5 separate regions of the Homo sapiens genome follow, and all the other regions are linked to region 1. Evidence: fine-mapped expression QTL. A gene starts in region 1. Each other region holds a variant in brackets. All regions are shown on one strand. Distances are between the middles of the regions.

What was found.
Region 2: its variant is fine-mapped to the expression of TATDN3 in whole blood (TOPMed, PIP 0.97).
Region 3: its variant is fine-mapped to the expression of TATDN3 in whole blood (TOPMed, PIP 0.92).
Region 4: its variant is fine-mapped to the expression of TATDN3 in coronary artery (GTEx, PIP above 0.99).
Region 5: its variant is fine-mapped to the expression of TATDN3 in whole blood (TOPMed, PIP above 0.99). The same link has a PIP of 0.9 or more in anterior cingulate cortex, atrial appendage, cerebral cortex, esophagus mucosa, fibroblasts and left ventricle.

Annotation. Positions count from the first base shown.
Region 1 is chr1:212,789,751-212,796,009 of GRCh38, reverse strand. TATDN3 (TatD DNase domain containing 3) reads right to left here and starts at 4,116. Exons shown (of 10, transcript NM_001042552.3): 1 at 4,023-4,116; 2 at 883-915. The coding sequence starts at 4,088. It overlaps NSL1 (NSL1 component of MIS12 kinetochore complex), which reads left to right and starts at 4,233. Exons shown (of 6, transcript NM_015471.4): 1 at 4,233-4,480. The coding sequence starts at 4,247. RefSeq lists enhancers at 1,055-1,104, 1,445-1,514, 1,393-1,893, 4,028-4,307, 4,782-5,560.
Region 2 is chr1:212,902,120-212,908,378 of GRCh38, reverse strand. No RefSeq gene overlaps it. Among named protein-coding and RNA genes, the nearest start is that of VASH2, 45 kb to the left of the region's middle. RefSeq lists an enhancer at 1-200. The variant T/A (reference allele first, on the strand shown) is at 3,540.
Region 3 is chr1:212,618,188-212,624,446 of GRCh38, reverse strand. ATF3 (activating transcription factor 3) reads right to left here. Exons shown (of 4, transcript NM_001674.4): 3 at 6,213-6,259; 4 at 3,672-5,089. The coding sequence ends at 4,892. Among named protein-coding and RNA genes, the nearest start is that of GARIN4, 3.2 kb to the left of the region's middle. RefSeq lists a silencer at 2,526-2,820. The variant C/G (reference allele first, on the strand shown) is at 3,497.
Region 4 is chr1:213,504,749-213,511,007 of GRCh38, reverse strand. It overlaps a transcript of RPS6KC1 not described here. Among named protein-coding and RNA genes, the nearest start is that of LINC00538, 420 kb to the left of the region's middle. RefSeq lists an enhancer at 2,447-3,445. The variant A/C (reference allele first, on the strand shown) is at 3,292.
Region 5 is chr1:212,808,908-212,815,166 of GRCh38, reverse strand. TATDN3 (TatD DNase domain containing 3) reads right to left here. Exons shown (of 10, transcript NM_001042552.3): 9 at 2,839-2,919; 10 at 1-154. The coding sequence ends at 11. Among named protein-coding and RNA genes, the nearest start is that of TATDN3, 20 kb to the right of the region's middle. The variant C/T (reference allele first, on the strand shown) is at 2,137.

The sequences.
Region 1 (6,259 bases):
CATGAATTTAAAAACTGAAAGATGGACCAATTTGTTCCATAGGGCTGTTGAGCATGGTAGCTATAGGAACATGTTTTGAATTCAGACTAACTTGTCTCTATCAGTTCACTAGCATGTGTCTTTGGACCAGTTACTCATCTCTAGGCCTTAGATTCCTCATCTATAAAAATGGGGAATGATTGGCTATAAATTAGTAATTTCCTCAGAAGGCTATTGTGAAACATTGAATGAGGTAAAGTCGAGAAAGGCCTTAGCTCACTACCTGGCATGTAGCAAACACTTAATAAATGCTACTTAGGCTGGGAGCAGTGCCGCATGCCTATAATCCCAGCATTTTGGGAGCCCAAGGTGGGTAGATTGCTTGAGCTCAGAAGTTTGACACCAGCCTGGGCAATATAGTCAGATCTTGTCTCTATTTTAATTATAAATAATAAAAATTGGCTGGTCGTAGTGGGTCACGCCTGCAATCTCAGCACTTTGGGAGGTCGAGGTGGGCAGATCACCTCAGGTCAGGAGTTCAAGACCAGCCTGGCCAACATGGTGAAACCCTGTCTCTACTAAAAATACAAAAATTATCTGGGTGCAGTGACGTGTGCCTATAGTCCCAGCTACTCAGGAGGCTGAGGCAGGAGAATCACTTGAACCTTGGAGGCAGAGGTTGCAGTGAGCTAAGATCACACGACTGCACTCCAGCCTGGGCGACAGAGCGAGACTCTGTCTCAATAAATAAATAAATAAATAAATAAAATAATAAAAATAAAAAATGCTACTTACTATAAACTACTGAAACATCAAGGTAGTATATCTAAATTTCAAGCTGTTTTGGCTTGAAATGATAGTTAAAATAAAAAACCAAAAGAGCAATTACAAATATTGACTTACCTTCTTGGCTTTCTCCAACACATCATCCAAATCCTAAAACAAGCATAAGAAATCACCATTATTTTAGATGAATAAGCAGCTAATCTTGGACTGTATATGTCAATGTAGTTGTGGCATCACAAAAAATAACAATGATAGCAACTAATGGAGTGGTGGAAAACAAAGAGCCTACACTGACCCACTTCCTGTTTACTCTTACTATCAGTAAAGTCTGGCTACTGTTCCCAGCACTAAAACAGAAGCCTCTATTGTCAAATATACAGGGTATTTCTCTGTCCTCATCTTACTCTACTCCTCAGCAGCATTCGGAATCCCTCACTTGCTTACTCCTTCCTTCTTGAAATGCTTTCCACCCTTCACTTCTGCAATACCACTCTCTCATTGGTGGCTACTTGTCAGTCTCCTTGACTAGCTCCCCTTCCTCTTTCAGACTTCAAGAACATCTGCTCCTCTCTCTGCACTTGCCTTGAGTGATTTCACTTCCTCTCATGGTTTTATCATCATTATGCTGAGGCCCCCATTTTTTTTCTTTTTTTTGAGATGAAGTTTCACTCTTGTCTCCCAGCTGTAGTGCAATGGTGCGATCTCGGCTCATTGCCACCTCTGCCACCCGGGTTCAAGTGATTCTCCTGCTTCAGCCTCCAGAGTAGCTGGGATTACAGGTGACCGCCACCACACTCAGCTAAATTTTGTATTTTTAGTAGAGATGGTGTTTCACCATGTTGGCCAAGCTGGTCTTTAACTCCTGATCTCAGGTGACCCACCCACCTTGGCCTCCCAAAGTGCTGGGACTACAGGTGTGAGCCATCGAACCCAGCCTGAGTCCCCAATTTTTTTTTTTTTTTTTGAGATGGAGTCTCGCTCTGTCACCCAGGCTGGAGTGCAGTGTCACGATCTCGGCTCACTGCAAGCTCCGCCTCCCGGGTTCACACCATTCTCCTGCCTCAGCCTCCCAAGTAGCTGGGACTACAGGCACATGCTGCCATGCCCAGCTAATTTTTTTGTACTTTTAGTAGCGACAGGGTTTCACCATGTTAGCCAGGATGGTCTCGATCTCCTAACCTTATGATCTGCCCACCTCGGCCTCCCAAAGTGCTGAGATTACAGGCATGAGCCACTGCGCCCGGCCCCCAATTTTTATCTTTAGCTTGTAATTCTCTCCTGAGCCCATGACTCATGTTTAAAAATTATGACATCTTCATTTGGATGGGATTAGGTTTCCCAATATGCCCCAAACATAAATCTTTATTTTCTCCCCACAAACCTATTCCTTCTGCTGACCTCCCCACCTCCACCTCAGACCTTGGTCTTCCCTTATCTCAGTAAACCAGCACCACCATCTTCCCTATAGCACAAGCTAATAATCTGAGTCATCCTTGACTCCTCCCTTTCCCTTGCTATCCACATCCAATTCTTCAGTACTTACTGTGGATTCTCTCTCTAAAATGTATCTTGAATCCATGTATTCATCTCAAACTCACCTGCTATCATCATAGTACCAACAGCCAACATCTCTTGCCTATATACTGCAAAAGCCTCCTAACTAGTCTTGTAGCTTCCACTCTTCTCCTCCACCCATTTGCCATACAGCAGCAAAATGGTGTTAAAATGGATAGCATCATGCCTATCCATTTTTGTGTAATCCCAGGACTTTGGGAGGCCAAGGAGGGTTGATCACTTGAGGCCAGAAGTTCAAGACCAGCCTGGACAACATGGCAAAACTCTGTCTCTATTAAAAATACAAAAAATTAGCCAGGCGTGGTGGGACACACCTGTGATCCCAGCTACTTGGGAGGCTGAGACAGGAGAATTTTTTGAGCCCAGGAGGTGGAGGTTGCAATGACCTGAGATCATGCTATTGCATTTCAGCCTGAGGGACACAGCCAGACTCAATCTAAAAAAATAAAAAAATGAAAATAAATTTTAAAAAAGCCCTTTAATGAATCTGCATTGTGCTTCAAATGCAATCCAAATTCCTTACTGACCCACCTCATCTATCCCCTGCAAACCTCCCCAGTTTTGTTTCATGCCTTTCTCTTTCTAGCTCATCAGGCTCCACTTAGCTTTTTGGCAACTGAAATGTGCCAAATTCTAGCTTGTCTGGGGGCCTGCAACCTATCTGTTTCCCTAACCAGCATACACTCACCCCCTTGCTTGGGTGGCTCCTTGTCTTTTCAGCCTTAAGTGTCAGCTCCTGGGAGGATTTCCCCCTGAAATAAAACCCCCCTTAATCCTCTATTATTAGTCTCTAGTTTCCCACGTAATGGGTAAAACAGTTTGTAACTGATTTTACGTGTGTATTATTATTTTAATTGAGACGGGGTCTCACCACATTGCCCAGGCTGGTCTCAAACTCCTGGGCTCAAGCGATCCACCCACTTCGGCCTCTCATAGTGCTAGGATTACAAGTGTGAGCAACCACACTCGGCCATGTATTTTTGTTTGTTTGTTTGCCTCTCTCCCCCATTTGTGAATTTTTTTTTTTTTTTTTTTTTGAGACAGGGTCTCACTGTTACCCAGGCTGGAGTGCAGTGGCTTGATGTCAGCTCACTGCAACCTCCACCTCCTGGGCTCCAGCGATTCTCCCACCTCAGCCTCCCGAGTAGCTGGGACCACAGGCAAACGCCACAATCACCGGCTTTTTTTTTTTTTTTGTAGGGACGAGGTTTCACCATGTTGCCCAGGCTGGTCACGATCTCCTGGACACAGGAGATGCGCAGCGCCCGCCTCGGCCTCCCAAAGTGCTGGGATTACGGGCGTGAGCCCGCGCCCGACCTCTCCCCGATTTGAACGCGTTTCGAGGACCGCTTCCCACAAAGAGTGGCATCTCAGCCAGGAGGTGAGAGCCCCGAGGGGAAAAACAGGCCAGCCAAGGGGAGTGAGGGAACGATTCCAGGAACTCAGAAGAGCAAACAAAAGCCTTGTGGAGATAGCTTACCGCTACTGAATCAGGAAAAAAAAATCGGTATGTCTGAGGTTAAATAGGGAATAGGGAAATGAGGGGCAAGGTCATATGGCCATAAACAAGGGTCTGGGCGGGGGATATGGGGTTTCGTCCCAAGGGAGGAGAGCAAAGATAACACGAGGGGAAAGGACGGGGGCCTCCCTGCTCCCTCTGGTCCCGTATCGCCCTCACATACGCGGTCAAAGTCCGGGGCGGAGAGGTGGCAGTGACAGTCCACCAAGCCTACGCCAGCCGCTCGCATTGCGCCCCGGCGGCTGCCGCTTTAGACCGGCCAGCAGAGCCGGAGCCGGAACGTTTCAGCTGCAGCGTCCTGAGTTTCCAGCCGGATGCATGCTGGTTACACCAGTGTGAACCCGCTTTTCCGCTCCCAGAGTGCCCCGCCCACAGTTCCGACGAAAAATGGCGGGGTCTCCTGAGTTGGTGGTCCTTGACCCTCCATGGGACAAGGAGCTCGCGGCTGGCACAGAGAGCCAGGCCTTGGTCTCCGCCACTCCCCGAGAAGACTTTCGGGTGCGCTGCACCTCGAAGCGGGCTGTGACCGAAATGCTACAACTGTGCGGCCGCTTCGTGCAAAAGCTCGGGGACGCTCTGCCGGAGGAGATTCGGGAGCCCGCTCTGCGAGATGCGCAGTGGGTACGGGACCAGTTAGCCAGTTCTTTACTCATCATCCTCTTACCCAACACCCAGGATCTTAGGATTCAGAAAGATCCCACGCCAGGCCTTGGCAGAATTAACGGTGCCCCAGGCTACTGTAGAACCAGTTCGAGAAACGCTAGAGGAGAAAGAAATAGATGCTAATGTCAGCTGGGTCTTATTAATTACTTAGACCAGCGCTGTCCAGTGAAAATACAAGGCAAGCTAATCTTTATGTAGTTTTAAACTAAAAGTAAGAAATAGGTGAAGTTAATGGAAATAAGACATTTTGTTTAACCCAATAAATCCAAGGTATTTTAACATGTAATAATATCAAATGAATGAGATATTTTACATTCTTTTGTTCGTACTAAGCTTTTCAAATCTGGTGTGCTGCATTTACGGCACATCTTCGAACTAGTTACATTTAAGCGCTCAGTAACTACAAAGTGGCTAGTGGCTCACCTGTTGGACAATGCAGCCGCAGACAATGAGGAATTCTCCTGGAAAGGGTAATTCTGGAAGTCAGCCATTCACCCAAGCAGCATTTGATCTTTCCTTTTGCATGTTTTATTTATTTATTTATTTTATTTTATTTTTTTTTTTTGAGACAGAGTCTCGCTCTGTCGCCCAGGCTGGAGTGCAGTGGCGCGATCTCGGCTCACTGCAAGCTCCGCCTCCTGGGTTCACGCCATTCTCCTGCCTCAGCCTCCTGAGTAGCTGGGACTCCAGGCGCCTGCCACCACGCCCGGCTAATTTTTTTGTGTTTTTAGTAGAGACAGGGTTTCACCGTGTTAGCCAGCATGGTCTCGATCTCCTGACCTCGTGATCCGCCCGCCTTGGGCTCCCAAAGTGCTGGTATTACAGGCGTGAGCCACCTCGCCCGGCCTATTAACCTTTATTTTTACTGTTTGCACTGTGGTCATTCATAACTCACAAATGTGCGGTATTATGAGCTTTTAAATTTTTTCCGCTAATATAAGTAGATTGGTGCCTGTTATAAGGAAGCACACAATCCCTTTATTTCTTGTGTTCCCAAAAAACTACCACCTTCAGGGCTTTGCAAAAATATTTAAGAAAGGCTTGGGAAATGTGGTATAGAGGCAAATGTATGATCTTAGTAAAGTTTTCAACCAACACAATTTTTTTTAACCTATTTTAGTCTTGTAAAGAAAATGTTTTCACTCTAAAACAGGCAAAAGGGGTCGGGCGCGGTGGCTCACGCCTGTAATCCCAGCACTTTGGGAGGCCGAGGCGGGCGGATCACGAGGTCAGGAGATCGAGACCATCCTGGCTAACATGGTGAAACCCCGTCTCTACTAAAACAATAATAATAATAATACAAAAAATTAGCCGGCCATGGTGGCAGGCACCTGTAGTCCCAGCTACTCGGGAGGCTGAGGCAGGAGAATGGCGTGAACCCGGGAGGCGGAGCTTGCAGTGAGCCCAGATCTCGCCACTGCACTCCAGCCTGGGTGACAGAGCGAGACTCCATCTCAAAAAAAAAAGGTTCAGTGGAAGAATGAAGAAACACTTCCTGGGTTGTGACTCTGTATGTAGTTTTGTATATAGTGACTCTTACGTCATTCCCTCCTTGCAAGCAAGGCAAGAATAGGGATATATCTCAGGACGTTTTTAGTAGTTTTTTGGGAGAAGACTTTTGTTGTATAATCTTAGAATTTGTCTGATTCTAGGAAATGCTAAGGTATTTAAAACATTTAGGTGTCTTACAGAAAAAGAGGAACTTGGCTTAACCTATTATATCCTATTTAGTGGGAC
Region 2 (6,259 bases), 110 kb before region 1:
GGTGAAATAAACCACCTTGTTGCTCATACAAAGCCTGTTTGGTGGTCTCTTCACACGGACGCGCATGAAACCTACCTCAGGTGATCCGCCCACCTCAGCCTCGCAAAGTGCTGGGATTACAGGTGTGAGCCACAGCACCCGGCCGATGAATACTTTCAAAGGGCTCATGGTACAGTTGAGGCAGTGAGGTAATGCACATAAATAACAGAAGAAAACCATTCAAGGAATCTACCTTATGAATAAGAGTACCAAGTATTGAATAACGTTGCAAAGAATGAGTTTATTGCTGTGTATAGCCTCTCCAGGGACATCTTTTTAAATTCTGAGCTCCTGATGACACAATAGAAAGCTCTGGCCATGGACAAATTCTGCCCTAGCTGGAATGACCCAGATCTTGTCCGTCTTGGTTTGGGGTCAAAGTATGTTTTGAAGGATTCAGCCTTTTCACTGAAAAAGAAAGCACTGTCAGTCCTATTTCAGCCTCATTTTAATTTTTATGCATTATGAAACTTTATAAAAATCTAATTTATCATTTTATCTCAGGGAGTTTGGGGCCAGTTCATCCCTGGAAGAATCAAATGTTTTCCTCATTATGGGAATGAGAGGTATGCTCAAGCAGCATTTGTCAACCGAAACCTATGGGCTCCAACCAGAAATCAAGTTTCCACTGGTTTCCGCCAGGTTGTTCTCTTTACAGTTACCATTTCGCCCACGGGTTAAAATAATCAAGATAAAGGGAAAAGTGCAAATGGGTACATATAACAAGATAAAACAAAGGCTTAATACGTCACTTGTCGAAATGGAAAATGAGGCTCATATGTCTTATTTTAATGAGTCCTTTCTAAATTTCTCTCCTGTGCCGTCCTTTTCTCCTTTCTCAAGGCTATAGGGCCTCCAAGCCCCATCTCCTCCTCCCTCCTATTCAAACCTGCTTGCAGGACAGCCATCAGACTTAAGATGAGATATTCCCTCTTGGTAGTCTGGTGTGCTTTGAAACCTTCTCTCTCTTTAGGGACCCAAAAATATCGTATCTCCGGTGAAAGGTCATAAAGGCATCTTCCAGGCATGGGATCCTGTCAAGGGCCCTGAAATTACTTCAGGGCGGGATGTCACCTATTAGTTTGACCAACTCTTCCTGCAGAAAGTGAGGGGCAGTGTGGTGAGGACAAGAAGCTGACACTAACAGGTGGCTTACAGGAAAGAGGTGACTTCAGAAATGTGTTACTTACCTAGATTTCTTCGCCTGCTATTGAAAATAAAGAGTATCTTTTTTTCTGGATGGAAGTAGTTTTTCCCACTGAAAATCTAAATGTAAATTTTAGTGATTCTGAATGGGATCTGAGAAAGGTCTTAGATTTTAAAGTTCCTATTTCTTATAGGGTAGCCGGTAACAGATAAAATGCCATGTTATTATTTTATATTTTAAACAGTTTCATGGCTTTTGCCTCAAATATTTAGCTGTTTGTAAAACTAAATAATGCTGGAAACTTTATCCTGAAATATCATACTAATTATAATTTAAATGGCATGACAACAGATGGTAGTAGCAGCTTTTTATAACTCTTCGTTTACACAGAGGTAGTATCTTGCTTTGCAGCTACCAATTCTCTTCTCTTTGGTCTCATTAATAAAACCACCCTAAATCTTCTGCCTGTCTTTCCCTTAGGCTCCTTCTTTGTCTCCACTAACTCTTTATGTTCCACCTACCTCCTTTAATTAGAGGCCTTTGATCCTTGATCCTCCCTTACTCTTTATTCTCTCCATATTCTGGCATTGTGAATCATTGATCAATGTAGTGATAGCCAGTTTCTCCTTTCTAGAAGCAAGACCCTTTTCAGGGAATCCATAATGTCCAAACTCTTTTCATAATAATACAAAGAAGTTATATACCTTTTTCACTATGTTGACATTTGCAATGATGGTGCAAAAGTGGTGGCGGGCAAAATTGCTGTTCTACGCTAAAAGTTTAGTCCCACTTGTTTATGTTTGCTTTTGCTGTCTCTGTTTTTGGTGTCATATTAAAAAAAAATCATTGCTCATCAATGCCTATGTTTCCTCCTTACATTTTATGATTTCAGGTCTTATATTTAAGTCTTTGTTGTTGTTGTTGTTGTTATTGAGATAAGGTCTCATTCTGTCACTCAGGCTGGAGTGCAGTGGTGCAATCTCGGCTTACTGCAGCTTCAACCTCCTGGGCTCATGAGATTCTTCCAACTCAGCTTTCCTGAGTAGCTGAGACCACAGGCGTGTGCCACCATACCTGGCTAATTTTTAAATTTTTTTTGGTAGAGGCGAGGTCTTACTATGTTGCCCAAGCTGTCCTCAAACTCCTAACTCAAGTGATCCTTCCACCACGGCCTCCCAAAGTGCTGGGATTACAGGCATGAGCCACCACACCTGCCCTGTCTTTAATCCATTTGAGTTGATGTTTGTGTATGATGTAAGATAAGAATCCAATTTCATTTTTTTTTTTTTTTTGCATGTGGTTATCCAGGTTTCCCAACAGTATCTATTGAAGACTATCCCTTCCACATTGTGTATTCTTGTCACAGATTAATTGACAGTGTATGTATGAGTTTATTTCTGGGCTTTCTGTTCCATTGGCCTAGTTTGTTTTTATGAGAGTATCATGCCGTTTTGATTACAGTAACTTTGTAATATAATTTGAAATCAGGAAGTGTGATACAACTTTGATCTTTCTCAAGTTTGCTTTAGCTATTCAAGTTCTCTTGAGGTTCCACACAAATTTTAAGATTGTTCTATTTTTATGAAAAATGCGATTGGAATTTTGAGAGAAATTGTGTTTAATCTTAAGGTTGCTTTGGGTAGTTGGACATTTTGACAATATTGATTCTTCTGATCCATGTACTTGGGATATCTTCCCATTAATTTGTCTTCAATTTCTTGCATCAATGCATTATAGTTTTCATTGTACAGATTTTTCACCTCCTTGATTAAACTTATTTCTGAGTACTTTATTCTTTTTGATCTTATTGTAAATGAAATTTTTTGCTTAGTTTTTCAGATAGTTCATTAGTATATAGAAATGCAACTGTTTTCATATGTTGATTTTGTATCCAGCAACTTTCCTGAATTTATTTTTAAATGTTTTTTCATAGAATCTCTAGAGATTTTTATACATAAGATCATGTTATCTGCACACAATTTTAATTCTTCCTTTCAGGTCTGGATGCCTTTTATTTCTTTTTCTTATCTAATTACTCATGTTAGAACTTCCAGTCCTACTAAATAGAAGTGGTAAGAGTGGACCTCCTTGCCTTGTTCTGGATCTTAGAGGAAGAGATTTCAGCTTTTTCACCATTGAGTATAATGTTAGCTGTGGGCTTTTCATAAATGATCTTTATTGTGTTGAGGTTAAGCTCCTTCTATGTCTTTTTTTTTTTTTGAGGTTTTATCATGAAAGGGTGTTGAATTTTGTCAAATACTTTTTCTGCATCTATTGAGGTGACTATATAATTTTTACCCTTATAGTATATCACATTTATTGAATTGTATATGTTGAACCATCCTTATATCCC[T/A]GGGATAAATCCCATTTGATCATAGTGTATGATCCTTTTAATGTGTTGTTAAATTTGGTTTGCTAGTATTTTGTGGAGGATCAGGGATACTGGCCTGTAATTTTATTTTCTATAATGTCCTTGACTGGTTTTGGTATCAGGGTAATGCTGACAATTAGTTTGGAAGTGTTCGTCCTCTGAAATTTTATGGAACACTTTAAGAAGGACTAGTATTATTTTCTTTGAATGTGTGGTAGAATTCACCAGTGAAGCCACTGGGACTTTGGTTTTTCTTCTACGGACAATTTTTGATTACTGATACAATCTACTTACTTGTTATTGGTATACTCAGATTTTCTATCTCTTCATGACTCAGTCTTGGTAGGTTGTATGTTTATAGAAATTTATCAATTTCTAGGTTATCCAGTTTGTTGAAGTACAATTGTTCATAATAGTCTCATGATTCTTTGTATTTCTGTGGTATCAGTTGTAATATCTCCTCTTTCATTTACAATTTCATTTGAGACTTCTCTTTTTCTTACTCTAAGGTTCATCAATTTTGTTTTTCTTTTCAAAAAATACAACTCCTAGTTTCACTGATCTTTTCTATTATTTTTCTAGTCTATATTTCATTTATTTCTGTTCTCATCTTTGTCATTTACTTCCTTCTACTAATTTTGGGCTTAATTTGTTCTTCTTTGTCTAGTTCCTTCAGGTGTAAAGTTAGGTGATTTATTTAAGATATTTCTTCATGTGGCCATTTATTGTTATAATTTCCCTCCTTGAACTGTTTTTGCTGCATTCCATCAGTTTTGATATGGTAATGGAAATAGAAAGTATTTCTATTTTCATTTGTCCCAAAATATTTTTTGATTTCCTGTTTGATTTCTTCGACTCACTAGTTGTTCAGAATCTGTTGTTTAATTTCTACATATTTTTGAATTTTCCAGTTTTCTTTCTATTGGTGGGTAATTTCATATCATTGTGAAATAATATGTAATTGTGTAATTTCCTATCATTGTAAGCATCAGAGAAGTTGCTTAATATGATATTATGTCTTAAGGAATATATGATTATTTCAATTGTATTTCTTATTTAAATGTATTTTAAAGACATTCTTTTGGGCCTAACATATGACCCATCCTGGAGAATGTTCCATGTGTACTTGAGGAAAATGTGTACTCTGTTGCTATTGGATGGAATATTCAATATATGTCCATTAAGTCCATGTGGTCTAAGGTGTAATTCAAATCCAATGTTTCCTTATTGATTTTGGCTGGATGTTCTATCAATTGTTGCAAGTGGGGTACTGAAATCCCCTATTAATTCTACTGCTATTTCTCCTTTCAGATCTGTTAATATTTGCTTTGCATAATTTTAGGTAGTCCACTGTTGGCACACACACACACATGCACACACAACTTGTTGGATCCTCTTAAATAATTGACCCCATTAAGGCCAGGCACAGTGGCTCATGTCTGTAATCCCAGCACTTTGGGAGGCCAAGGTGGGCGGATCATGAGGTCAGGAGATCGAGACCATCCTGGCCAATGTGGTGAAACCCCGTCTCTACTAAAATACAAAAAATTAGCTGGCCATGGTGGTGCAGGCCTATAGTACTGGCTACTTGGGAGGCTGAGGCAGGGGGAATTGCTTGAACCTGGGAGGCGGAGGTTGCAGTGAGCCGAGATCACACCACTGCACTCCAGCCTGGCGACAGAGCGAGACTCTGTCTCAAAAAAAAAAAAAAAAAAAATTGACTCCATTATCATTATATAATAGTCTTCTTTGTCCCTTGTTAAAGTTTTTTAGGTGTTTTTTTTGTTTGTTTTTTGACAAGAGTCTCACTCTGTTGGCCAGGCTGGAGTGCAGTTGCACGATCTCAGCTCACTGCAACCTCTGTTTCCCAGGCTCAAGCGATTCTCCTGCCTCAGCCTCCTGAGTAACTGGGATTACAGGCGTCTGCCACCACGCCCAGCTAATTTTTGTATTTTTAGTAGAGATGGGGTTTCACCATATTGGTCAGGCTGGTCTCGAACTCCTGACCTCAGGTAACCCACCTGCCTTGGCCTCCCAAAGTGCTGGGATTACAGGCGTGAGCCACCATGCCTGGCCAAAGTTTTTACTTAAAGTCCATTTTGTCTGATTTAAATATAGCTACCCTGGCCAGGTGCAGTGGCTCACAACTGTAATCCCAACATTTGGGAGGCCAAGGCAGGCAGATCACCTGAGGTCAGGCATTCAGGACCAGCCTGGCCAACACAGTGAAACTCCATTTCCTAAAAATACAAAAATTAGATGGGTGTGGTGGTGCACACCTGTAATCCCCACTACTTGGGAGGATGAAGCATGAGAATCACAAGAACCCAGGAGGTGGAGGTTGCAGTGAGCTGAGATCATGCCACTACACTCCAGCCTGGGTGGAGTGAGACTCTGTCTCAAAAATAAATAAATAAATAAAGCTACCCTGCTCTATTTCTGTTTCCATTTGTATGGATTCTCTCTTTCCATCCCTTTACGGCCTATGTATATCTTTAAAGCTAAAGTGACTCTGGTAAGCAGCATACAGTTTGGTTTTTAAATCCATTTAGCCAATCTATGTCTATGATTGGATAATTTAACCCATTTACATTTAAAGTAATTATTGACAGGTAAGAACTTACAGGCATTTTGTTGTTTTCTGGCGGTTTTAAAGATCCTTTGTCCTTTTCTTCCTCTCTTGCTGTCTTTTGTGATTAGAT
Region 3 (6,259 bases), 170 kb after region 1:
ATCTTCTGCTTCCCTTTGTGACCTGTTGCTGTCACATACCCCTTTGTTCTCATCCCCCAGGCCAGGGCCACAATGCCCTCACTAATACTCCATTGCCCCCATAGAGGACAGCCCCACCGTGCCAGGTACTCAAGTGGGTGCCAAAATAAAAATTTTTCAAATGAGAAAATGTGTGGTTGCTTCCCCTTCCTCACCCCAAATTCAAAAGATTCAGCAACTAGGCAGAGTCTACAGGAACGCAAGATGATGGGATAAATTTGAACCATTTGAGTACACGGTTTAAATTTTTTTTTAACCTAGAATTCGCAGTCTTGGTTCTTAGCCCACTCTTCCATAAAATCTCAGTTCATGCTGACAATGGAAATCTTTAGTAATAACCTCAACCTTTAATAATAACATGAGAGATTGCTTCTTCTAGGCGCCATACTATGTATCAAACTCCATTCCAGTTTGATACTATTGCAACGCTTCTCATCTTACAGGTAAAAAAAACCTGAAGTTGTGAAACATACCTGCATTTGTAGAACTCGTAGGCAGTGGAGGTATTATTTGAATACAGGTCTTGCTGCTTTTAAAATCTTCCTTCTGAACCACTACAGAACTTACAAAAAAAGCTTGGGCAAGCCAAATAAGTTGCATAATTAATTCTGTGTGTGTGTGTGTGTGTGTGTGTGTGTATGCATGCATGTTATGGAGAATCCAGGACAACCACTTCAGAAAGGGGCTGGGCTGAGTGGGGGATTAAATTATCCAAGGGGCCACCTCTATTTCTCCTCCATCATGTTTATACCAACATCCTGTGTCAGGGAGCCCAAATATTTTCTCAAGGCCCCCAGTGTTTGCCCCGTGCCTCTTCTTACCCCCTACCCTGTGAAATGCCGGGAGAAGAGGGTAGGATGGAAAGTGTGAGCTTACATTCCAGGAGCCTATCAAAGGCCCTCCTCTACTAACCTCTCTACTATGCAGAAGTACTTTGGAAGCCATTTACATCCATGGGGAACAGGTGCTACTATACCTCCTGCCTTGCCATGCCCACAGAGCGAGCCCAGGAATAAGTAATTTCCAAGCTGTTACCTGGAAGTCCTGAAAAGGAGCACCTGCTTCCAACTCTCTTTTCTCCCAGCTTGACATCAGGCCTGAAATCCTACCTTAGAGATTCAGTTCTTGAAGATAAAGGCTAGCTGTTTCTTAACATACACACACCTGTCTATCAACTGATGAATGGATAAACAAAAAGTATAGTATCCATACAACAGAATACTATTCAGCCATAAAGAGAAATAAGGTACTATTACATAATACGCTAGGCTGACACTTGAAAACATTATGCTAAGTGAAAGAAGCCAGCCGTATTGTGCGAAAGGCCACATATTGTATGATGCTATTTACATAAAATATCCAGCGCAGGCAAGTCCATAGAAACAGAAGACAGATTAGTGGTTGCCAGAGACTGGAAGGAAGGGGAATGAAGAGTGACTCCTTAATGGGTACAGGATTTCCTTTGGGGACAGTGAAAAAGTTCTGGAACTAGATAGTAATGGTTACACTGCATTGTGAATGTACTTAATGGCACTGAATTGTACACTTCAAAATAGTTACAATGGCAAATTTTTTGTATATCTTACCACGCACACACACACAAATGTATATACTCTTGTTTGAAATCATTGCTGTTGAAAACAAGCATAGGCTTCAGCTTTGGAAAGATCCACTGTGAGACCTCGAGCAAGTTACTGAGCTCTCCACTCCCTCATCTGTAAAATGGGGGTAGCAGTTGTTGTGAGGATTAAATGGGATAATACATGTGAAGTGTTTAGTGTATTGTCCTACGCAATAAATGTTAGCTTCTGTTAGCATTAGTCCTCAACAGTCCTTTTAACCTCAGTGTAAATTCCTCCCTGAAAGCAGTGTTTGATGAGACTGTGTTAAAATCTTCTGGAGTTAGAGCCACCATGAGAACACAGGATGCTCAGTGGGCAAATGGGACCTCCTTTCAGGCAGATTCTAATTGGAAACGCTGTTCACGCCACAAAGAAACAGTACATGAACCCAACCAGAGGTTACGGGACAGGGAAGAGAGGAGAAAGCTTGATATGGGTTGGAGTGTTGAGGGTTTATTCAAAGCCCATGGGGAGAAATTAGGATACAGATGGAAAATAGTATTTTAGTTAACAGAAAGTGGAAAGATTCCATTCCAGAACTCCTGTCCTGGGCCAGAACCCTTTAAAAGCTCTTGACTCTGAAACAGGTGTCAGGCCAGCTCTCAGGGAAAGCCAAAGGGGCAGGTGGAAGGCAAGAGAGAGGAGGGAGGGTGGCTTTCCACACCCTGGCAGTGTGACATCACCACTACCAACAGGAGACAGCTCAGTGCAGACACTGCCAAACCGGGTGCTTGATATTGGTGGTGGCCCCATCTAAGTTTATTCTCTCAGATCCCCCCACCTTCCCTTTCCTCTAAATGTGAAACAAAAGAAACTAAATGCCTTGATGGTAAATGCATAGTCATCATCCTTTTTAAAATTAAAGTATCAAAACATAAACTTGGCTACATAAAACAATTTTTAATGCATTTGTGATAGACCTTCATTTACACTTACCATACACATCAAGTTTTCTTGCCATAGCCACCATCCGCCCCCAACTTCCTTCCTCTCTAATCCATTGTTGTTCCTGGCAGCTTACAAATTGTCTTGCGTTTCATAATGGCTGGTGGCTGGTGCCTCTACCCATAACTAGAAGGTAAATGCAAGGGATGTTTTCCCCTCCACCAAGAAAAGGAACATAAATTATCCCCTGAAAGAAGTGCTGAATGGTATTAACATCAGATGGCTCTTGATGGATTAGGAAAGACCCCTGATGTGCAATTCAGAGAGTAAAATGAAGACACCTGTGTCTTAAGTGATCATTTAAAGGAAACATACATGAGGTCAAAGAAGTAGGCACAGAATTCATGTGTACGAATCTGACATTTAACGAAGACATTCTTCTCTGAAGAATGGCACCAGCGGCGAGTGGCCAGTTTTTATGTCTAGCCTGTGAATGTTATAGAGAAGCACAAAAAGCAAGGGGGCCTGGCTCTCTTGCAGGCCAAAGGAATCATACGCCCTGGAAATTCCAGGAAATTCAGTGGAATGTCTTTCTTTGAATTATCACACCCATGCTGTCTAAAATGGTTCTTTCTTCCTCCGGTACCCCTTCCCATTCTTTTCTGATATGTATTTGCAACAATGAGACACACGTTTAGACATGAAACAGATGTAACTCAAGTGAGTAACTCTCTGAGACGAGTTCTGTGGCAGAATGTTAGGGGTCAAAGGTTCAAGCTGAACAACAGGTGTATGTTTTAGGTGTTTGTACATTCAGAGAAAATAATTAAGGTATCTAGCAATTCAGTTGTACATCAAAATTCTAAACACCAAACTGTTGATCTAAAGGATATATTTGGTGCCATGTTTCAGGGTTTGTCAATGAAAAATTGAGCATCAGGTGCCCAAGA[C/G]TGAGGAACAGGACTGAAAGCCAACTATCCCATCTAGTGATGCCCCAAAGAGCAAAGGATGACATCTGGAGAAGTTTAAAGCTAGGCACCCCCCATAATGGGGAGGGAAAGGCAGGGAATCGCTAGGTCTCAGCAACCGACAGATTTAAATGAACAGAAACCAGCACAACACATGTTTACCATGTCTTGGTTCCAATATTTATTATTCTGACAGGTTAGGAATACTAGGATAAATAAGTAATATTTTCTCTTACAGAAAATTGTAATGATACCATTGAGTACAATTAAACACTCTGAGAATTTCACAGAAACATCAGAATTTTAATAGACAGTAGCCAGCGTCCTTGTGGCCAGTGTGAGTGACTTCTCACAGCTGCAAACACCCTGGGCCAGATTTCTTAAAACAGCTACATGACAAAAACAATGCTATTGACATCCAATAATGCTAAAGCCTGGGTACCACCCAGGCTCCACTGACTGTGGTTTCCAAACATCTCTCCACTGACTGTGGTTTTCAACCACAAGGAAAGGAAAATGGAATATTCTTTGGCTCTTCCAGCCTAGACACAACTCCTGACCTAAGACATTGAGTGGAGAGTCCTAACCCTTTGGAAGTTGAACTTTCTGCTTTCTTCCTGTGACTTTGGAACTGAGTTTGCAACAGAGGACCTGCCATCATACTGCCCATGGATTTTGTGTTAACGCTGGGAGAATTCTGTCCTCCTCTTGCTGACAAGCTCTTCTGGCCACCTGAATATCTTGAGATACTGCACGTGGTGACAGCCCCGCCCCCCAAAACTCTTAGAAACCAGATCTGAGAAAAAGCATATAAAAGTCACATCAGTGTTGTGTGACACAAACATCGGAAGAGTACATTGCCTAGTTTTCTTGCACACACAATTTCTGGACATAACAGCATATTTGCTAGAAAGCACAACCCTGGCCGTTGCACAACTTCACTAAATGCTGTTCTCACTCCACATCCCCTACGAGTGACAATGGTAGCCACGGTGAAGGAGATGGCCCCATCCCTCCCACCCGAGGTACAGACACTGCTGCCTGAATCCTAACGGTGGGCATCCTGGTTTTTTGTAGAATCCAGATGAAAGGCGGGCAGGACACCAGCTGGGGGCCATCTGGAACATAAGAATGGCCAGTGTGTTAAGGCCTAAATCCTGGAGTTGAGGCAAAGATGCACTTGCCCTGGTCCAAGACCCACTCTGGGGCAGAATGGGAAGGGCCTGCTGAATCACTGCAGGCCCTCCCGCCTTGATGGTTCTCTGCTGCTGGGATTCTAGAGGTACACAGGAAGACAGCTCTCCAATGGCTTCAGGGTTTTGGGTATAAAATGAGGATTCAATGAGGACTCCCCAGTCGCCCCCATACCACGACTGCTTAGCTCTGCAATGTTCCTTCTTTTATCTGTTGGATAAAGAGGTTTCTCTCATCTTCTGGAGTCCTCCCATTCTGAGCCCGGACAATACACGTGGGCCGATGAAGGTTGAGCATGTATATCAAATGCTGCTTCTCGTTCTTGAGCTCCTCAATCTGAGCCTTCAGTTCAGCATTCACACTTTCCAGCTTCTCCGACTCCTGGGGGACAAGCAACAGAGGCATCAAGAAAGGAGCCAAGGGCCAGTGAGGAGGGGGTGGCCTGGGCTGCTGCCTGGATGCAGGGGTGTACCTGGGACACACCGGGGCTCATCAAGCTGCGAGAGGAAGATGGGAGATGGGAGAGCAGCACTGGGTTTAGGAAAATGCAGACCCTCTTCTTCAGAGAAACCCTGGTGATGCCACAGAGGCGGCCTGTGGCTCTGCTAATACTGAAGCTGCAGTTCAGATACCTCATTTGCATGAGTCAACAGCCCATATGCAGGTCTTCTGGACCCAAAAGGGCCTTGGGAGCTGGGGAGAAATCCAGACTTATGGTGGCTTAGTCGATTCTGAGTCACAGATCTCAATGAGAAGCTCATCTCCCCAGAAAAAATGTATATAGCAACACACAAAATTCCCTAATTTTCACTGATCCCCTGAAGCAATCAACAGAACTTTTGGGGATCTGTGGGACTTGGGCTAAGACTCTGTCATGGCCTGTCCACATTTGGAGGAGGGACACAGCCACTGGAAAGACTGCTGAGCACCACCGGCCACCCTGCTTGCCCACAAAAGCTATTTCCCCTAGTGTCTCTCAGGCGGGCCGGCTGAACGCAGCCAGGGGCTCAGCTTACTGGCTAAGCCAGGGAGAAGGGCTCTAGAGTTAGGAACCAGACAAGAATGCAAAGCAAGTGTAACCACTGCTTGTGGATTAAGGAAATAACTTGTTTGAAGAGATTAATTAAAGGCTTTTCATAGTGAGCCAAATGAGAGCTGGCAGCTTCCTTTTCTCAGGAAAACAGTCAAGTGAAGCCTCTTTAACTGGGCTGGCATGTCCTGCAGCCTGGAAGCTGATGGACATGTATGAACCGGCCGAGGCTGCTGGGAGTCAGGCATCAGACGAATTCACACACCTGTTTTTATACATCCACCGTCACATCCATTGTGTTAACTGCTTTGCCACCTCCTCATTCTGCAACTGGCATTTCTGCTACCAGCTACAAGGCCCTTCTTGGGAAACTATAACCAAGTAGGGGGTTTTCTAACTCTTCTTCTGATAGCCACATGAAGCTGGTGAAGACAGGCGTGAGCGAGAGGAAGGGTAAGGCTAGAAGGCACTCACTTTCTGCAGGCACTCCGTCTTCTCCTTCTTCTTGTTTCGGCACTTTG
Region 4 (6,259 bases), 710 kb before region 1:
AAACCCCTCTGGTGAAAGGGAATTTGTTTCCTTCCCCGAGTACTAAGCACCCATCTTTGCACACAGTTAAGTACTCAGTCAATATTGGCTCAATTAGTGTTTATTAATTCCCTATGACTTCGGCCCTGGGCTAGGCACCAAAGTAGTCACAGAAGTAAAAAGGCCTCCCCACCCCACACAAATAAGGGCTTATATAGTATAGGGAAAGTCTGGAAAACAGCATCAATAATGGTAGAATACGGTTAAGTAAAAGAATTGGACATGACAAACTGCGGCTCCTACGAATTCAGGGAGGATCTGGGTAGAGTCAAACAGTGAAATGGTTTCCTAGAGAAAACAGGACTTGAACTGGAGACCGTGAGTGCAGGATCAAACTAGACTCACAGAGCCACTAAACCCCATTAAAGAGACAGGCACAGAATAATTGGCAGCCACAATTTATATTGCTCAGTAACTGCAAAACCAAGGAGTTATTTTTACAACTAGCCCGTTATAGCCTATGATTTGGCCAATAAACCCTGCCTGGAGTTTCACAATATGAAGTTAGGGGGTATAGAGTATACCTCCATGGAAACTCTATCAGTGTTTTATCAACAACAAAAACAAACTACACAGTACTTAACCTCCATCAGATGAGCTTAAATGACAAAGATAAAAGTGGATCTAACTTTTGGATAAAAGAAGTCAGGCATTTGGGGACACTGAAGGGCTTACTGGAAGTACTCCGGATCTGGTGATTGGTACCAGGAATTACAAGTACATAATGGAGGAAAACTTATTTAAGGACAGGCACAGGTAATGCCTGGGGCTTAGGAGACAACAGAGCATGCAATTGAAGCAGGCCCCTACTTTGGCTGCTGTGCATTACATGAAAAGGCACAATGATGCTCTTCCACCATCCCCTCAGCAATTAGTCCTCCAGTAAATGAATTAGCACCCTATTGTAGGTAGGAACCCAAGAAGTTGTTAGAAAACAGGCAATCAAAGATACTGGAGACAGAGCTGTGAGAATCAGTCTGCCCAGATGGGAAAGAGACCAGATATCTTGCTGTTTGATAAATGTATAAACTTACTGACATTCATCTTCATTCAATGAAAAAGAAATTCAGAGCATGTGCTTCAATAAAAGAGATACATCTATGGACATAATAAAAGAGATAAAAATGGCTGCAAGAATCACAGGATACTGGTATAAAAACTGGTTATCTAACACACGAAAATTATTTTCATATGCTAGCATTAAAGTTTGTGTCTGCTGCAGGGGAGAACATTATAAAATGTATTAATGAAGGTACTGCTTACCCTTTGATACCTAAGAATTGGCATTTCTTGGTTCAATTCTACATGTGTACATTCCAAGAGTCATTATTTGACTCTGTTGACTGAGCCCAAGTCGCTGCTAAGAAATTAAAGTTATGTGAAGTGTAAAGACTTCGCATTTGTTCAACAGACACCCTCTAGGTAAGCCTTGAAGAAATTAAATCCCATACAAAAACAGGTTGCCAGCTAGGAGTCAGGGAAGCCTTTTCATTACAGAATAATTATTTTGAAAATTGAACGACCATTTACTAATTTAATATGTACAAATGAATTTCCGCTTATAGTATTTTATAAAAGTGGAATTTATTTGCCTTTCTGGATTCTAATTCTTAGAAGAAAAAAAAAAAGGATCAACTCTCTTTCTTTAAAGATAAAGCAATGACCAACCTCAAAAGACAGGTAAAGACAGAACCCCCAAGGGGCTAGTTTTTCATTCTCCTTCCTTGCCTTAATACCCAGATTTGGTCTTTAGCCATGTGATTTTAGGGTGATCGTATGTACTGGCTTGCCCAGGACAGTGCTGGTTTACATCTGATGTCCCAGCATAATTATTAAATACACCTTACTACCAAAATGTCCCAAATTGTGTGATAAATTACATGGTCACCCTACATATTATAGATTCTAAAGAACTGGAATTTGTTGTATTTCAAAATCAATTAGAAGGCAGTATTTTGGACATCATGACATCACCTCCAAGGATGAGGCACAGCTTTTTTACAACCCACCTGGGAGGTTCTACTATGTACTCAAGCCACTATCCATGAATTCACCGAGTTAGAAGTTCTAATCTCAAGTCAAGATCCTGCCATTGCCCTTTTCTCTCCAGCATCCACCTGCTAAACACAGTAGATACCATTTGCAGATTAGCAACTGAGACCAATCAACAACAATTTATTGAGCCCCCAAAAGACACACCTCAGGTTAACATGAAAACCCTGGTGGTGTCAATCATTTGACCAGATAATGATTCCTCACTATTTACAAAACTACTGTACTTAAAATATTGTCTTCCTGGGTTATATGTGGAAATTGAGGCTTAAGAAAAAAAGGAAAAACTTATTGGGAGCATAGCCTAGAAGCAAATTCAAGCTCTGCCCAGCAACCATCACCCACAAACTCCAGTCCCAACACACACACATACACACACACACACAAACCCCTTACTGGTGATGGCAGAGAACTTTCAAAAGCAACACAGCTTCATTTTACAAATGTCCTATTTTCTGGCTCTCCACTTTTTTCTGTGCTGAATTGGTAATGGAGCTAATAAAGGTTCAAGATGCTCTTTCTGGGGGCCAAATTTTTCTTTTCTCCATGTCATGCTTTTTATTCAGAAAATCATTTTCTTTGCATTGTTTTCACAAAAGCCTTCCAACACCCCCAAATAATGCAGAGAAATTGGCTTTCATTTTGAACAGGCTTTTTCAATGCACACTGTATCTCTCAGCATATCTATTATATTAATCCAAGCCTTAATGATACAATGGGTAAAAACAGTGTACGGATGTGTATCAATGAAAAATTTAATAGATTTCCCTCTTAATGTAATAGAATTGGCATGAGGCATTGGGAACAGGAGTGAAAGTAGTCACTCAAGCATTGTGTTTACATGATATTTAAATACAAGTGGCTGGGGTATAAGTACCGCTAAGTACACCTGAAAGGGATGGTGCCTCCTAATCATTGTTTCAGCAATTGACAGTTGTTTACACAACAGCAGCACATTCGCTGCTGATTTGAATAATAAACATGCTTAAATACCAGCTGGATAATAGAAGGATAATTGAAACATAGTTTAAAGCTCTGATTTACAGGCATTGTAGCAACACTTTTATTTGCTGTACAATGCTGCACTTCTGTGCAGTTTCTGAAAAAAGAATTTAAGGCATTGTTTCAGACACTGGGGTCTATTAAACTTGATTAATACACTCAGCATATGTATCCATAGCTCAAGCCATGCCTGGGCAT[A/C]CTTGAGACAGCTATTGTGCAATGTGTTTGATCAAAACACTCAATGCTGTAATAGAACCATTCCGGAGGCCCGCAATGCAGTGTGTCCACCAGGGCTCTGAGCGGTGGATGGGACCACAGGCACCTGATAAGTTTCATGCTTCACAGGTTAAAAAAAAAAAAAAAAATGAGAGGGTTGACCTGAATCATCTCAGACTGTATAAAGTTATGCTGCTAAACTATCTCCAATTTGCGCCACTTTCTTTGCATCTGTCCTTTTCCTTCTTTCCATGCCTCTTGCTACCACCTGAGTTCAGGCCAGTTTTACCTCTACCCAGGTCAACTGCAAGAGGCCTAACCTGGGCATCTGCTCCCAGGGTCTCTCTATTTCAGCCCCCCACCCTGCGCTGCCAACACAATGGTCCCTTTTCAGGTAGGAGTGCCAGAGCCAGGCAGGTTGCGTGCTCAGGTTGGCCCTGCGGGTTGGTAGTACCTGGCAAGTGTTAGCTGCCACTCGAGTCCTCAAATGTGGGGATCCTAAAATGTGACTGAACCTGTTCACTTGGAATAGGTTGTACTTGTGGAAGTTACTCATGTAACCAAATTAGCAGGAGCCTAATTTGCCAACCAGAATGCTGATACGTTCATTGATTTATCAATTTACTAGGGGAGATACATCTTACAGAATCATTCACATTGGTCATTCAGAACACTCTCTCCTGGAATAATTGCCTCAGAGGAGCAAATTATGTGTCAGAAAGTTGCTTAATGAACATAAAGTAAGAGCAAAAGGAATGGGATGAATTGCCACTTTCCACTCCAGGGAAAATGCTGCCTAAAAGTAATAGCACTCAGGCACCAAGCCAGACATCTATTATCACTAATTCTTTTAAAATCCCCCAGGAATTATTATTCCTTTTTAAATATAAGGGACTGATCTAAGGCCACAATGTCGTTGAGTTATAGCATCAAAACCACATAACTAGCTAGCTAATTAAGAATCATCATATTGATGGTCAAGAATAATTACCAGACATTGATACATTGATATTCAGATCTCCCTCCATCTCTGTCTCTTTCTCTATCTCCTGGATTGACTGGGTTGAGTAAAAACAGAGAGGCGTTTATATTCTCACTCCTTTTTTAGTGACTCACATGCACAAGTCATAGGGGTCATCTTCCACCCTCTGCTAGACCTGGTGGGTGACCCATAGATGTTGAATGAGTAACTGAGTGAAAAGTTAAATGAACTTTCAATGATTGTTATTTAATGTCAAACCTGTCTTTCTGAGAATACAGTCTGATACTTAGTGAGAGAGTTTGGACAATCATGGCATCTCCAATCTATTAAAACATGGTGTTGCTTCTGCAAATAACTAATCTCATCTGGTATGGGTGTCGCCCTAAAATTTAGTTTCCATCACAACCACATCCTGAAATTTTAAAGACCATTATCAGCATTCTTCCATGCACAAAATCCATCTCCTTCATCTCGTTACTTACCAATTCAAAACCAGGTACAAAAGTAGGAGACTCATTTTCAGAAGAAAGGACAGCAATGCCAAGAGTCTATACTGTAGTACAAGATGGTCCCCATCAAGCATGGCACCATCTTGCCCTCAGAGCCCCTTCTGAGAGAATTTACCCCAGTCACAGTTACTGTTGAAGTAGCAACTCTCTACCCCACTCTGGCTCCAGCTGGATAGAAGTGTGGGCACCTGATCCAAGGACAACAAACAAATGCAGATGACAGCCAATAAGCTACAGGATGGCCTGACACAAAACAGAAACTGAGTCTCTCTCTCTCACTCTCTCTCCCTTTAAGAAAAATCAGGCACTTGATAGTGAAGCCAGAGACAGAAAACATGCATAAAGAGAGAAGCCATGAAGTAGATAAGGACCACGAATGATCAAAACAAGTCACAGTTAGATAGAAGGCAGGAAATATGAGGTAGAGAAACCAAAACAACTGTAGAGTGAAGTGGTCAAGAGCATGAACCCAGGCTCTTGAACCCTGCCCAGGTCTGAACCCCAGCCTGTCCTTTTCCTAGCAGTGTTACCTTGGGCTGGTTCCTCCACCTCTAACAGCATCTGGCCCATGGTAAATGCTGTGTACATGCTGGCATGTTAGATATTGCTGTTGAGCACTTACGATGTGTCAGCCAGTGTGCTCAATCTGTTATATGTGTTAACTCAATCCTCACAACAAAAACCTGAAGTTCTGTTATTATCCCCATTTTCCACATCAGAAAACAGAGGCACAGAGAGATTAAGCAGCTTGCCCAAGGTCATATAGCTGGCACGTGGTAGGGCTGGGATTCGAATCCAGACAATCTGGCCCTAAGGCAGCACAGGCACCATCAAAGAGAGGTTGTGTGTCCTATGATAGGGAAATAACACATTCAAGAGGTCCTTTGGCCAGAGATTCAGTTCTAACACACAAGAATCCTCAGACCTACCCACCTCCCTCTGCCCACGGTAGTCTGGGTGGTTCTTTTTTTCTCCCTGAAACTGAAAGAGCCTGACTATAGCTGGAATCAGTCCTGAATTGGAGAGAGTGAGGTGCATTCATGGAACATAGAATAGGATCTCAGGGGATACTTGGGGTAAGTGGAAGTGGATATCGTACAGTGACAGGGTGAAGGGAAACGAAGCCCCACAGGCTAGGTAAGTGACAAACACTGGGCTTTCATTGATAGACTCCAGTGACCCAGATCTTGGGTCCCATAGATGGGGGTTGTGGGGAACTTAGTGGCTTTGGCCCTAACTCTGATTCATAGGATTAGGAATGAGGTAAACATCACAAAGCAGATGGATGCTATGCATCATATCAGACAAGTTACAATGGGAAAAGGGCACCTCCCCTCCTTTCCTAAATAAGAAATTTTATGTTAGATACTCATTTTTGCAGATCTCTAAAGATTATTAGAAGATTCTAGAAGCTTCCAGAGAGAGGGGAAAAAAACAAGTTGCCCACAAAGAAATAAGA
Region 5 (6,259 bases), 19 kb before region 1:
GGTTTTGAAGCTATTTCTGGAGCAAGTGTCGGAGCTTAGGAAACAGTTTTAATGCATTCTGTGTCGTCACTTCTATAACTTCTTCCACTGAGATCCCTTTCACCTGGGCAATATATTCTGCTGAAATAGAAATGTTCCAGGGCTCATTCCGTACCTGAAACAAGACAGCAGACACCATGTCAAACATGACACTGAAGGGAAGCAGATCCTTGGAGACTATAGATAGAAGAAAATGAGTTGGTAAAAACAACTGATGGGCTCCTTTTTAATTTTTTTCTTTTTAGGTGGGGATGAGGGCTGGGAGGGAGGTGTGGCTGCAATGTTGATTGTAAATCTGTGCTGCTCCTGAAAAGAACCCTGGGGTATTTACAATTGAAGTCCCTAGCTCCTAGCACATGAAGCAGTCTGCAAACAGTGAACACCTGGTAACCTGCCTGACTAATGGATTAATTGTCCTTTGGTTTGTTGCTTAGGTGAATGCTTGTAAAAGGTCACTGCTCTGCTGCTTGGCCGCCTACCTCACAGGCTACATGACAGTTTGATTCAAGAATTGCCAACATGTATTGGAAAGATGAAATAGATTATGTACTGGCATTTCACTGATTCTAAGATGCATTTCCTCTCCTATTTTAACATCTCTGAAATTGATACAGTATATTTCATTTAGATTCAGTGGTATTTCATAGTATAACTGGCAGTGTTTTTTCTTTCTTAATGGTCATAAAACAATGGTAAACAATGGTGCCTCTACAATCAGTAGCATTTAGATTTTATGAAATAAATTATTATTGTTACTATCAATAAGTATCTACTCAGGATGATAATGTTCAGAAGAATAACATTATTGTTAAAATTTTTAAAATGCACTTTGGTAATGTAGCCCAAAAAAATTAAAAATGGGCATAGAGATTTATGTTAATCATGTTGTTTATAATACAATCTAGATGACCAATAGCAAGTTAAATATGGTAAACTCACATACTGGAATATTATGCAGTTATTAAACATGATGAAGAAAAGTATGTTTATTAATATATACAGAGGTTCAGCCAGGTGCAGTGGCTTACACCTGTAATCTTAGCACTTAGGAAGGCCGAGGTGGGAGGATCACTTGAGCTTAGGAGTTTGAGACCAGCCTGGGCAACATAGTGAGACCTTGTCTCTATTAAAAAAAAAATTAACAAAAAAAATATATATACAGAGGTTTACCACATAAAGATCAGTTATAAAATAATATGTCCAAGTTAATCCTGTTTTTATGAAATATATGTGCACTAAAAATACAAAAATCAGCCGGGCGTGGTGGCACAAGCCTGTAATCCCAGCTACTAGGGAGGCTGAGGCAGGAGAATTGCTTGAATCCAGAAGGCGGAAGTTGCAGTGAGCTGAGATTGCGCCACTGCACTCCAGCCTGGGCGACAGAGCAAGACTCTGTCTCAAAAACAAAACAAAAACAAAAACAAAAACAAGTAGCCAGGCATGGTAGCACATGCCTGATGGAGAATCATCTGAACCCAGAAAGTCGAGGTTGCTGTGATCACGCCACTGCACTATAGCTTGGGTGACAGAGTAGACCCTGTCTCAAAAAAAAAAAAAAAAAGAAAAGAAAGAAAATAAAAATAGAAACATTAATTGAACATCAGTTAGTAAAATTCACATTGCAATCACATATAATCATAGTTTCTGAATAAACGGATAATAATTGCTACTGTTCCCAAACCTCTAAATTTTGAGTGCCAATTCTCTGAATTTGGCAGGCATAGAGACACAGATCTGATGGGTAGTCAAAGGCACTTATTAAACTGCACATTGGGAGGTCATTGTAATAGGTACTGCCTAAAGCAAATAAAGCATATACTGTGGCTTACTTTCAGAAAATTATAATTTAAAATAGTAGCAATATGAAAGAGAGTGAAATTTAAAATATGATTCTTTGTGGCCTACAATAACAAAAAGAGATACTAACAGCAAAGATCATATAAATAAACCCATGATTATATCAATACTTGTATTGAAAGAAATAGAACTTCATTATAACATGCTAATTAAAAGAAGAAAAATGAACACTCATTGAATACCTACTGTATACCAGATACTGCTAGTTACGTTCACATACGTTACTTCATGTAATACTTA[C/T]CATAATCTTTTCTTTTTTTTTTGAGATGGAGTTTTGCTCTTGTTGCCCAGGCTGGGGTGCAATGGTGCAATCTCGGCTCACTGCAACCTCCACCTCCCGGGTTCAAGCGATTCTCCTGCCTCAGCCTCCCGAGTAGCTGCGATTACAGGCGCATGTGCCACCACGCCCAGCTAATTTTTTTGTATTTTTAGTAGAGACAGGGTTTCTCCATGTTAGTCAAGCTGGTCTCGAACTCCTGACCTCAGGTGATCTGCCCGCCTTGGCCTCCCAGAGTGCTGGGATTACAGGTGTGAGCCACCGTGCCCAGCCCACCATAATCTTTTAATGTATTTATTATTTTACCCATATTTTATAAATGAAAAAGCAGTTTCAGAGAGATTAAGTAGCTTGCCCAAAGTCAGCTACTAGGTAGATAACAGGATTTGAATTTGTCTTTCTGACTGCAGACACTGTGCTTTTTACTACACTGGTCTGACTCTTATTATTACATACATTAGGACATGCTTCATTATCAAATAATATTCTCTGGAGTGCAACAGCTATATTTAGAAAGACCTGAAATAAAGTTAATATAAGCCCTCAATCTGGCAGTATATGAGGATTCCACTGTATTTACACTATAATGAGAAATACAGCTAAATTGAAAAGAACTCAAATGAAAGATACAATCTAAATAATATAGAAATTAGAAAACCATTTACCTGTTTTTCTGGTCCTAGTGCAGGTGAATCTGTTTCTAAGCATATAGAAGTTAAAGGCAATTGTTTCACAAGTTTCTGCTTCTTAGAGAAAAGAGAAAGCAGCTAAGTTTAAAACATGAGAAATAAAGATAAAGAGCATTAAATTGACATACTAATAATGCATTTTATTCTGCAATAACTTAAAATTTATGCTTTAGGCTGGGCGCGGTGGCTCACGCCTGTAATCCCAGCACTTTGGGAGGCCGAGGCGGGTGGATCACGAGGTCAGGAGTTCAAGACCAGCCTGACCAACATGGTGAAACCCCGTCTCTGCTAAAAATACAAAAATTGCCAGGCACAGTGGCTCATGCTTGTAATCCCAGCACTTTGGGAGGCCGAGGCAGACAGAACATAAGGTCAGGAGTTCAAGACTAGCCTGGCCAACATGGTGAAACCCCATCTCTACTGAAAATACAAAAATTAGCCAGGCATGGTGGCAGGCACCTGTAATCCCAGCTACTCAGGAGGCTGAGGAAGAAGAATCACTTGAACCCGGGAGGTGGAGGTTGCAGTGAGCCGAGATCACCCCACTGTACTCCAGACTGGGCAGCAGAGCAAGACTCCATCTCAAAAAAAAAATAATAATAATAATAAAATAAAAATACAAATACAAAAATTAGCCAGGCAAGGTTGCAGTGAGCCGAGATCACGCCACTGTACTCCAGACTGGGCAACAGAGCGAGACTCCGCCTCAAAAAAAAATTATTTTTTACTATTCAACTGATAGGCCGGTTGTGGTAGCTCGCGCCTGTAATCCCAGTACTTTGGGAGGCTGAGGTGGGTGGGTCACTTGAGACCAGGAGTTCGAGACCAGCCTGGGCAACATGATAAAACCCCATCTCTACTGAGAATACAAAAATTAAGCCGGGGTGGTGGCTCATACCTGTCCAGCACTTTGGGAGGCCAAGGCAGGCTGATCACTTGAGATTGGAAGTTCGAGACCAGCCTGACCAACATGGTGAAACCCCGTCTCTACTAAAAATACAAAAATTAGCCGGGCGTAGTGGTGGCTGCCTGTAATCCCAGCTACTCGGGAGGTTGAGGCAGAATCACTTGAACCCGGGAGGCAGAGGTTGCAGTGAGCTGAGATCGCGCCACTGCACTCCAGCCTAGCCAGAGTGGAAAAAAAAAATACAAAAATTAGCCAGGCATTGTGGTACACGCCTGTAATCCCAGGTACTCGGAAGGCTGAGGCAGGAGAATTGCTTGGACCTGGGAGGCGGAGATTGCAGTGAGACAAGATCACATCACTGCACCCCAGCCTGGGCGACAGAGTGAGACTCTGCTTCAAAAAAACAATTCAATTGATAAATGCTAACTGGATGTTCTCATAATTCCACTACTAAAAGTTATGTTAAAATATAAACACTAATTCCTAAAAATTATCCAAAGCTTCTAGGGAAACCAAAGAATAGTAACCATAGCAAAAATGAGGTATACCCAGCAAGCAGAAATCCAAACATCTGGTATCATGTGCCGACATTGACAAGGAAGTGATTTCTGTTGTTTCTCCACCCTCATCACATTCAGTGTTTCTTTCTAACATCCACTTTAAGGCACTCAAAGCTTTATGTTTATAAATCTAAGGGTTTTGTTTGTTTTTGAGACACAGTCTGGCTCTGTCACTCATGTTGGAGTGGAGTGGCACGTACTCGGCTCACTGGACCCTCCATCTCCTGGGCTGAAGACATCCTCCCACCTCAGCCTCCCAAGTAGTTGGGACTATAGGCACACACCACCACACTCGGCTAATTTTTTTTTTTTTTTTTTTTTTTTTTGAGACAGAGTCTCGCTCTGTCACCCAGGCTGGCGTGCAGTGGCGCGATCTCGGCTCACTGCAAGCTCCGCCTCCCGGGTTCACGCCATTCTCCTGCCTCAGCCTCCCAAGTAGCTGGGACTACAGGCGCCCACCACCATGCCCGGCTAATTTTTTGTATTTTTAGTAGAGACGGGGTTTCACCATGTGAGCCAGGATGGTCTTGATCTCCTGACCACGTCGTGATCCACCCGCCTTGGCCTCCCAAAGTGCTGGGATTACATGCGTGAGCCACCGCGCCCTGCCTTCACTCGGCTAATTTTTATATGTTTTGTAGAGACAGGGTTTCGCCATATTGCCTAGGCTGTTCTCAAATTCTTGAGCTCAGGTGATCCGCAACCCTTGGCCTCCCAAAGTGCTGAGGTCACAGATATGAGCCTCCGTGCCTGGCCCAAATCTAAGGTTCTTATGCAATTTAAATTTTATTTTTTTATTAATTAATGTATTTATTTTTGAGATGGAGTCTCTGTCGCCCAGGCTGGAGTGCAGAAGCGCGATCTCAGCTCACTGCAACATCTGCCTCCTGGGTTCAAGTGATTCTCCTGCCTCAGCCTCCTGAGTAGCTGGGATTATAGGCATGCGCCACCACACCCAGCTAATTTTTGTATTTTTAGTAGAGAAGGGGTCTCACCATGTTGGCCAGGCTGGTTTTGAACTCCTAACCTCAGGTGAACTGCCTGCTTTGACCTCCGAAAGTGCTGGGATTACAGGTGTGAGCCACAGTGCCTAGCCCAATTTAAATTTTAGATTGGGTTGTGGATGGTTTTCTTTTTTCTTTTTTTTTTTTTTGAGACGGAGTCTCGCTCTGTCACCCAGGCTGGAGTGCAGTGGCGCGATCTCGGCTCACTGCAGGCTCTGCCCCCCCGGGTTCACGCCATTCTCCTGCCTCAGTCTCCCGAGTAGGTGGGACTACAGGCGCCCACCACCATGCCTGGCTAATTTTTTGTATTTTTAGTAGTGACGGGGCTTCCCCGTGTTAGCCAGGATGGTCTCGATCTCCTGACCTCGTGATCTGCCCGCCTCGGCCTCCCAAAGTGCTGGGATTACAGGCATAAGCCACTGCGCCCGGCCTAGTTTTTAATTTTTAAAGCTATAATTCACATAACCATAATATTCACTCTTTAAAAGTACACAATCCAGTGTTTTTTGCTATATTCACAAAATTGTACAATCATCACCATTATCTAGTTCTGGAATATTTTCATCACTCCAAAAAGAAATCCCATACCCATTAGCTGTCACTCCCTATTATCCTTCCCCTCAAAATTCTGGAAACCACTAATCTATATTGTGTTTATAGATCTGCCTCACCTGGACATTTCACATGAATGGAATAATACAAGATGTGGTTTTTCGTCTGGTTGCTTTCTCTTAGTATAATGTTTTCAAGGTTCATCCATGCTGTAGCATGACTCAGTACTTCATTTCTTTTCATGACTTTATTCCTCTTCATTCCTTTTTATGACTTTATATTCCATTATATGGATATAGCACATTTTATTTATCCATTCATCAGCTGACGGAAATCTAGGTTGTTTCTACTTTTTGGCTATTATGAATAATGCT